Linked DNA regions of Homo sapiens: region 1 is linked to region 2. The links come from fine-mapping of genetic effects on gene expression. A gene starts in region 2. The other region holds a variant in brackets. All regions are shown on one strand. Distances are between the middles of the regions.

Region 1 (4,000 bases), 110 kb after region 2:
CTCACGCCAGTAATCCTAGCACTTTGGGAGGCTGAGGTGGGAGGATCGCTTGAGACCAGGAGTTCAAGATCAGTCTGGGCAACATGATGAAACCCTGTTTCTACAAAAAATACAAAAAAAACTAGCAGAGCCTGGTAGTGCACATCTGTAGTCCTAGTTACTTGGGAGGTTGAGGTGGGAGGATCACTTGAGCCTGGGGGCAGATGTTGTAGTGAGCTGTGATTGCACCACTGCACTCCAGTCTGGGTGACAGAGTGAGACCCCGTATCAAAAGGAAAAAAGAGTTCAACTTTATTAAAACCTTCGGGGAATGTCCCACTCATCAAACATAACCAAGTGATGGTGAGGATGTGGAATGACTTGGTAAAACCATTTTAGAGAGCTATTTGGCAATATGTCATCAATAGGAAGATGCCCTCCTAAGTCTTTACTCTGAAGAAGCTCTGTTTTGTAGGTGCATAAGAATGTTCATGGCAGTGCTGTATGTAATCATGAAAAGCTGGAAGCAGCTGACATGGAGACTGGACATTACGGTAGTCACACAAGGGACTGTATACAGCACAGAACCAATCACAGCTTCACTCATCAATGTGGGTGGCTCTCAGAAACACACAGTAGATCAGAAAAGAAAGTTGCAGATGAATATATACAGTATGATACCACTTATATGGTCTTTAAATACATGCAAGACACTATTACATATCGTAAATATGGAGAAATAGATAGTAAAACAGAGAAACACAGGGAATGGCAAATATCACATTCAGGAGAATGGTCACCTCTGTGGGGAGAGCAGAGAGATGGGATTGCATCAGGTACACAGAGGGCTTCCCTGGTATTGGCAAAGTGTTATTTCCTAGGTTGGTAGGTACACGGTGTCTGTGATATAATTCTTTATTCTGCGGTCATCATTACTGTTGTCCACCAAGCATTTCTGGGTCCTTCCCCTTCCAAGCGCCTGGTAGGATAGTAATTTCAGGTTTTCTGTGGTTGGGAGAGGCCCTGTGACTAGTTCTGGTCAATGATTTGTGAGCTAGAGCATTAACTGCCTTTTTGAGACCCTCTAGATTCCTTTCTTTTTTTTTTTTGAGACAGGGTCTTACCCTGTCACCAGACTGGAGTGCAGTGGCACAATTACAGCTCACTGCAGCCTCCAAGTCCTGGGCTCAAGTGATCCTCTTGCCTCAGCCTCCTGAGTAGCCGAGACTACAGGTGCACACCACCACACCCGGCTAATTAAAAAAAATTTTTTTAGAGACAGGGTCCTGCTATGTTGCCTAAGCTGGTCTTGAACTTGGCCTCAAGTGATCCTCCTGCCTTGGCTTCCCAAAGTGCTGGGATTACAGGCATGAGCCACTGTGCCCGGCATCTCTTTTGCTTCTGACAGTGCTTCAGATGGTGGCTGTTCCACCAGCCTGGGTCCCTAAGTGATTTCAATGGTCAGAGTCCCCTGCTCATCCACAAAGGGCATGTAGCAGAAGTGAGAAGCAGTAAGTAGCAGAAGCAGAAGTGTGTGTTAAGCCACTGAGATATTGGGGTTTTTACTGCAGCATAATCTAGACTATTCTGATACATACCTTTTAGTGTGTCTAGAATAATTAAATTAAAAAATTAAATGAGGAAAATATCCATAGCTTTCACGCAAGTTCTAAGATAAGACAAGAGAAGGGGGCTTAAGAGAGTAGAAGGCTGCATTTCCATTGCTGTTTCCTAAAGA[C/A]AAAAAAAAAGACATTTCCTAGCTCCCTTTTACCCCTTGGGTGGCAGCAGCAATGAGTTCAGGAAGACTTTGGGCTGGGGTGTCCCTGGTATTTCATTACACCTCTCTTGGAAACTCATTTAGCACCACTGTGCTTTCTCCTCAGCTTCAGGAAAAAAGCCCAGCAATCCCCAGGCATTAGACACCTGCAGGGCAAAACTTGGTTTGGCACATTGTTTGGGCTTCTAAGTCCCCCACCTCCCCAAAACTGCAGCAACATCAGCCAGAACAGATATGTAAGATCAGAGCAGACAGGATGTGAGGGAGTTCTTGCCTTAGGTGCCTGGCAAGAATGTGAACCTCAGCTCCTGGGAGCATGGGGCTGGATGGCTCTGTCACACAGTCTACAGCCCACTGACACTTCAAATGCCAGCTTCCTGCCTTCTTGCCTCCGGAGGAAGCATTCCTGGATTACCTTGCCTGGAAGGGAGGGGAGGAGGAGCTGCAGGTAATACCTGGATTTCTATGGTGCTTTTCTTCCTAAAGGTTCAAAAGACATCCCTTCTCTGATCTCCTGTGGCCTTCCCCAGAAATAGGGCAAGGAGAGGAAGACTCTCATTTCCCAGTCCAGGTAAAGAAATGAGGGTCCAGAGAGGTTAAGCAAATGGCCTGAGGTCATATAGCAGGACAAGAGTATGATTCTGGTGGGCAAGGGTCTATGTCTCCACACCCCATCTCTCCCCATCCACTACCCCAGACCTACCCTGCTGGCCAGGCTGGCTGGCCCCTGTATGTGGGCAGCAACCTTAGTACTCTCAGTAGCCTTTGCAGAGGGGTGAGCTGGGCCTTGAGTGTCCACTCAGCTTGTCCTGGGCCTGAGCAGAGAAGAGGAAGAGGAGGAACTGGGAGAGGCTAAGGTCAGCCCCCCCCACCCCCCCACAATCTCCCAACAGAGCAGTGATGACAGGTTGGCCTTGAGCCCCGTGGTCCCGCCACTGGGAGGTCAGGCCAGGAGGCTGCCAGAACACCGGGGCTGAAGAGGCTCCAGATAATGCAACTGGGGCAGGCTCTGTGGGTGGAAATGACATTTCTTGACTTTAAATAGCTCCATCTCCAGAGCCCCGGAGCCTCGGCAGGGCTATTAATTCCTGGACTCCCAGGGCTGCCTAGCCCTGTCATTCTGTTTGCACAAGTTGTGTAAGATCTCAGGCATTTTTCCTGCCACCCGTCTCCCCCACCTCCCTTCAGGTTTCCTGTGCGATTTCAACAAGGGGTTAGTTTATTTCCAGTTTCAGGCCTGGGATTCGAACTGACCACATACATATTTTGTCCTTCTTACAAGTGACACGGCTCAAGTCAACAGCAAACTCTTAAGGGTTTTCTTTGTAACCTGGTGTCTCTGTAATGAAAGGTAATGTGTATGTGAATGGACGGCAAAAAGAGAGGCCATCTCTATGCATGCATGTGTGTGTGTGTATCAAGTTAATTAATCAATTGATTAATCAAACCCCCAGATTATTTTTGAGTGCTTACTATGTGTCAGGCACTGGGCTAGCGCTGGGTACAAAGGGTAAACAAGAGTCCTAACTGATTAAAAAAAAAGAAAACTGTTACCACCCCCAGGGAAGGCCCCTGGTGGTGTCTCCTGGCCCAGCTGGGCATCCCTGACAATAGTTCCCAACATCTCTGCATCGTGCCCACACTTGCCAAGCCCCCGGTTATGTGCCATGCTGAGAATGATGCAGAGAAAAAGACAGGTAGGTGCAGGAGGTTCTAAATGCAGAAAATCAACAGGTCGTGGTGGCTGACTGGCTGGAGAAATAAGAATCAACGATTAGTCAATGACAAGTCCAGGGTGTTCAGCCTGAGGACACTTAGACTGTTGGACCTTTGAGGGCAGACATGGCAGCTCCTACATATGGGGAAAGCACCTGGTGGGTTCAGCATTCCCTGGTCTTCCCTGTGTCCAGGCTGGGCATTTCAAGGACAGCCTCAGGGAAGACACATTTTTAATCATTTTGACTGGTGTGTGTGTGTGTGTGTGTGTGTGTGTGTGTGTGTGTGTCTGTCTGTCTGTCTGTCTGCTATTGACATCTAGTGGGTGGAGAATAGGGGTACCACGAAACATCCTCTGAAGCACAGGACAGCCCCACCCACAACAAAAAATTATCCAGCCCAAAATATGAGTAGTGCCAAAGTTGTGAAGCCTGAGTTTCTGTGAATCTGATCACTAGGTCCACAGGAAACTTAAATCATCCCAGTTTCACCCAGACCCATGCAATGTGGACTGACATTCAAGCTAAC
Region 2 (4,000 bases):
AGATATTAAAGGGACAGGGTGGGAGGTAGGGGTGGGACACAGAGTTTGCAGAAATGGATTTTGGATGATCGACTTTTTTCCATTTATACTGAGGACCCAACCAAATGACATGATCTGCAATACAAGAGATTTAAATAGGATGTAAGGAAGAATCTGCCTGTTAGGAGGTTCTCCCTAGGTGACAAAAGATAGTAGTGGGCTCTCCTTCCTGGGGGAGTGAAATCATCTATTAGATGCTCACAAATCCAGGTAAGGAATTTAACATAGGACCAGTTTGGGATATTCAAGTTCCTCACATCCAAGTTCAGTAAAGTAGGGGGTTGGAACGGTGGTGGGGCACAATAACTGTTCTGTCCCATTCATCTCTCAGGTATCCAGCACCCTCTACCTCGGTCATTAAGAATGGAGGTTTCCTTGAGACCACACGTCTCCTTTGGAGGATGGGGCAGGGAGACACCAGTTTAGTGCCTAGCCACATGCCAGGCACAGAGCCTCACGAGGGGCACTCAAGTACTTGCAGAGTGAACGAAGGCACCCCTATGGCAGGTCCTAGAGAGCTGAGGCCTACCTTGCTCCTTTCCCCCAGTGTTCGCTGATTCTAGTGGCTGAGGGCCTTGCTTCCTCCCCACTAACTAGGGTAGGGAAGGCAGCACTACTGGAGGACTAGAGGAAGAGAGAGAAAAACTCCTTGGCCTCCCAGAAATTGTCTAGGCCAGATGATTGACTTCAGGACAATCATTGATTGGGATTTTCCTGGGCTTAGATTCTCCCCCTTCCCTACCTGAGGTCTCAAGGCCTAAGGTAAGTTTCCCAACCTGATATGTGTGGTGGATAGGGGGGTGAGCTGCGTAGCAGTATAATAGGGTCCTCAGTCCTCACCCACTCCGCAGCTCTGTCCCACCTGGCGGGCAGGGTTAGACAGGCCAGACAGGTTTGGGACTGGGGGCGGCCCCTTTATGCCTCTCTCAGCTCCAGAGGAAATGACTGCCAAGCACTGGCTAACTGTTTCTCTTGAAAGTCAGGAGGAAGCAGCAAGAAAGAGCACACTGCGTGCCCAAGCATGACTCTGTGGAGGTGTGTGTGCTCATCACACAGAGTCTGGGATGTGGCCTGGCTCCTGGCCCTCAGAACCCCATAATGGCCCTCAGAACCTCCTGGCCTCCAGTTGTGGGGCCCAGTTCTGCGCAAGGTTTCTGCACACACTTCACTAGGTCTCTGGAGGGTGGGCAGCGGCATCTACCAGGCTACGTTGGCCCAGTTACCCAGGACCAGCCCCCCGACCCCAGGCCCGGGACGCTGGATGGCTGGGTGCCCCTGGAGTGGCACAGTGTCCACACCTGGCTCCCAGGCGGCAGGGGCTGGTGTGGTGCATCTGCCGTCCTCCCCCGGGTCCCGGGTGCCCCTCACCTTGAGCTGGGACTTGGAGACTTTGCCACTCTTCTCCACGTCCAGCGCGGTAAAGGCGTACCAGATGGACTTGAGCAGTTCCTTGCGCAGGGCCATGGCTGAGGCGCCCGCCCGGCTGGGGGCGGCTCTGACACTAAGATCCGGTTTCAGGAAATGCAAACGGCTGCAGAGACCGCAGAGGTGCCGTGGTGGAGCGAGAGCACCACCTGCCTGCACATTGCGTGAGGCTCTGTGCTGTCGAGAACCCTGCCTGTTGTTCTGGCAGTGCTCAGAGGCTCCACTCCCTGCATGGGAACTGGGGACCAACTCTCCGAGAGCGGGAACCCTCGTTCTGTATCCACGTGGCTCCCGGGGCATGTGAGGCCCTTTTAGAAGCCTCCTCAGACCCGGAGGCTTCTGGAGCCTTCCAGGGCTCCCAGACGCAGCTTGCTGAGGGAAAAAGCAAGCTCATCCTGATATTGGGGTCAGACAGAGTAAAGGTCCAGTCCTAGTTCAACATAGGAGGCCTTGGGTAAGTTACTTAACCTCCTTGAGCAGTTTCCTCATTTGTAAAGCAGGAAAAATGCCTCCGTGTTGTAAGAATGTCTGAGAATGGACGTAAAGCACATAGTAGGCTCTGGGTAGAGCTTTTGGTGCTACTTAACATTACCATGGTGGTGGGACTCCATCCAAGTGGAAGGAAACAAAGGCAACATCACAAAGCTGGAGAAGGAAATGGGCCAGGGCACCTCTCCAGGTCAGGATGTGGCACTTGACTTGCTGGCTCCCTATCCCCTCAGCACTGGCTCTAAACGGTACTCAGAGCACTGCCCACTCTAGCCCCAGTAGCCCTGAAGACACTGGAAACTTCCTGAAACACATGGGGGTGAGCCTTGTGGTGCACCTCAACTTTAAGGGTCCCAGCAGCAGCAGGCTTGGGATTCAGGGCCCTCCATGTCAGTGCTTCCTTTCTTCAGATCCAGTGTCCAAAAGGACTGGGACACGCCCACACCAGGAATGGTGGTCACAGATGTTGAAGACATCTGCTCAGGCCAATTCTAAGACACCTCCCCCTACCCCCTAAGCCAAATAAAAATCCCTCCAAGTAAGGTGCTGGGAATACCTCCTGCCTGGAAGCACGCCCCCGCCCCTCTCTTCCCAAGGAGCTGGTGGCAAGAGTAAATGGGAGCTTTCTAGGCATCCTGGGAGAGGATGCCTGGATCAGAGGAGGGGGTTCCAATCCTAGGAGGCAGGAAGGGGTTGGGGCATATCCATCACAGCAGAGAGAGGAAAAGAGGCACCACCAATCCCTGCAATGTTCCTGTGTAGGCAGAGTCAAACCCAGAGCTTCTTCCCATCAAGTGCCTTCCCCTGTATCCCTTCTTCCCCCTGGAGCTGATCTGGTCTCACCAACTCACTTTTCAGTGGGGTCTGATTGTGGCTTTGAAATCCCACAGCACAGTCCTAGGCACCTAGGTGGGCACCCCCAGAGCTGGGTAATAGAGCCAAGACTTCAGCTCCAGAGGCATCAGACTCTGCTCCTTGAATCTCAGTAACCTTGGCAAAGGTGTCCCCCAGCCTCACTCTAACCTGGGGCTTTGCCCTCTTGGAGAAGCTGACTGTGTGATTTGGGGGTGGCTGGGTTGGAGGGGCTCTGACTACGTTTCACAAGAAAAGGCAGGAAAAGAGTTCCCCCAGCTCAATCACATGAGGCCTGAGATTCAGCCAGAGCCTGGAAGCAGCGGTCACCCTGGTCCTGTTTGGCTACCCTGGAGCCCACCTGCTCAGCTGTGGGCAAGAAGCCACCAGCAGCTCCTCAGGGCTTTATCTTATACTGGGCTTCCTTCCCACCTGTGTCCCTGGCAGGCCAGCCCCACCACTCTGGCACCAAGGCTGAGTGGGGTTTGTGCCAGGGAGACAGGGCTGATAGCCTGATTTGACCAACCCTGCCACCCGGGCCTAGAGCTGAAAGGATGGAGGGACCCAGGTGGAAATTTGGAACTTTTATTAAATACTCATTCATCCATGTGCCACCACCACCCAGAGCAGGAAAAAAATTATCAAAATGGAATTAAAAAAAACAAAACAAATCAAACCCAATCCCCAGCAGTCTATGTACAGGGCCACTCCCTGCCTCTCTGCCATAGAGAGGTTGGGGGGCAGCTGAGGAGTGGTGGGGGCTGGGCACCTTTTCTTCAGCCACAGGCCCCTGAGGAATTAATTGACTGTGGTGTCAGGAAGTCCCTGGTGCCAAGTAGCCAGGCATCTCAGCTGGCCTCCAGGGAGGTGGTTATTGCTGGGAGGGCAGGACAGGGCCTGCTCCACTGCTACTGGGCTGAAGAGCTGTCTGTGGCTCAACCCTACAGGGCCAGTCCCCATAGCAGCCCCAATCTCTACCTGAGAAGGGGAACAGACTGAGGGCCAGAAGGGTGTTCTTTAGGAGGAGAGTGGGCGCCCAGCTGATTTTGAGAGGCGGGTGCCCTGGTGTAGCCTGGCTGTTGTCAGCTCCCGAGGATGATGCACTCCCCTGATTCCAGCTGCCTGGCCCCCTTCTTGAGCAGGGCCCCCATTCCCTTCAGTTAGGCAGTTTTCTTGCTGTCTTCTCACCCCAGAG

What was found. PIP is the estimated chance that this variant, and not a neighbour inherited with it, causes the effect.
Region 1: its variant is the best candidate, but not a certain one, in a credible set for the expression of DEF6 in lung (TOPMed, PIP 0.77).

What each region holds. Positions count from the first base shown.
Region 1 is chr6:35,184,256-35,188,255 of GRCh38, reverse strand. No RefSeq gene overlaps it. Among named protein-coding and RNA genes, the nearest start is that of SCUBE3, 28 kb to the left of the region's middle. RefSeq lists silencers at 2,630-2,924, 3,319-3,700. The variant C/A (reference allele first, on the strand shown) is at 1,718.
Region 2 is chr6:35,295,360-35,299,359 of GRCh38, reverse strand. It overlaps DEF6 (DEF6 guanine nucleotide exchange factor), which reads right to left and starts at 1,542. Exons shown (of 11, transcript NM_022047.4): 1 at 1,408-1,542. The coding sequence starts at 1,503. It overlaps ZNF76 (zinc finger protein 76), which reads right to left. Exons shown (of 14, transcript NM_003427.5): 14 at 3,375-4,000. RefSeq lists a silencer at 3,041-3,205.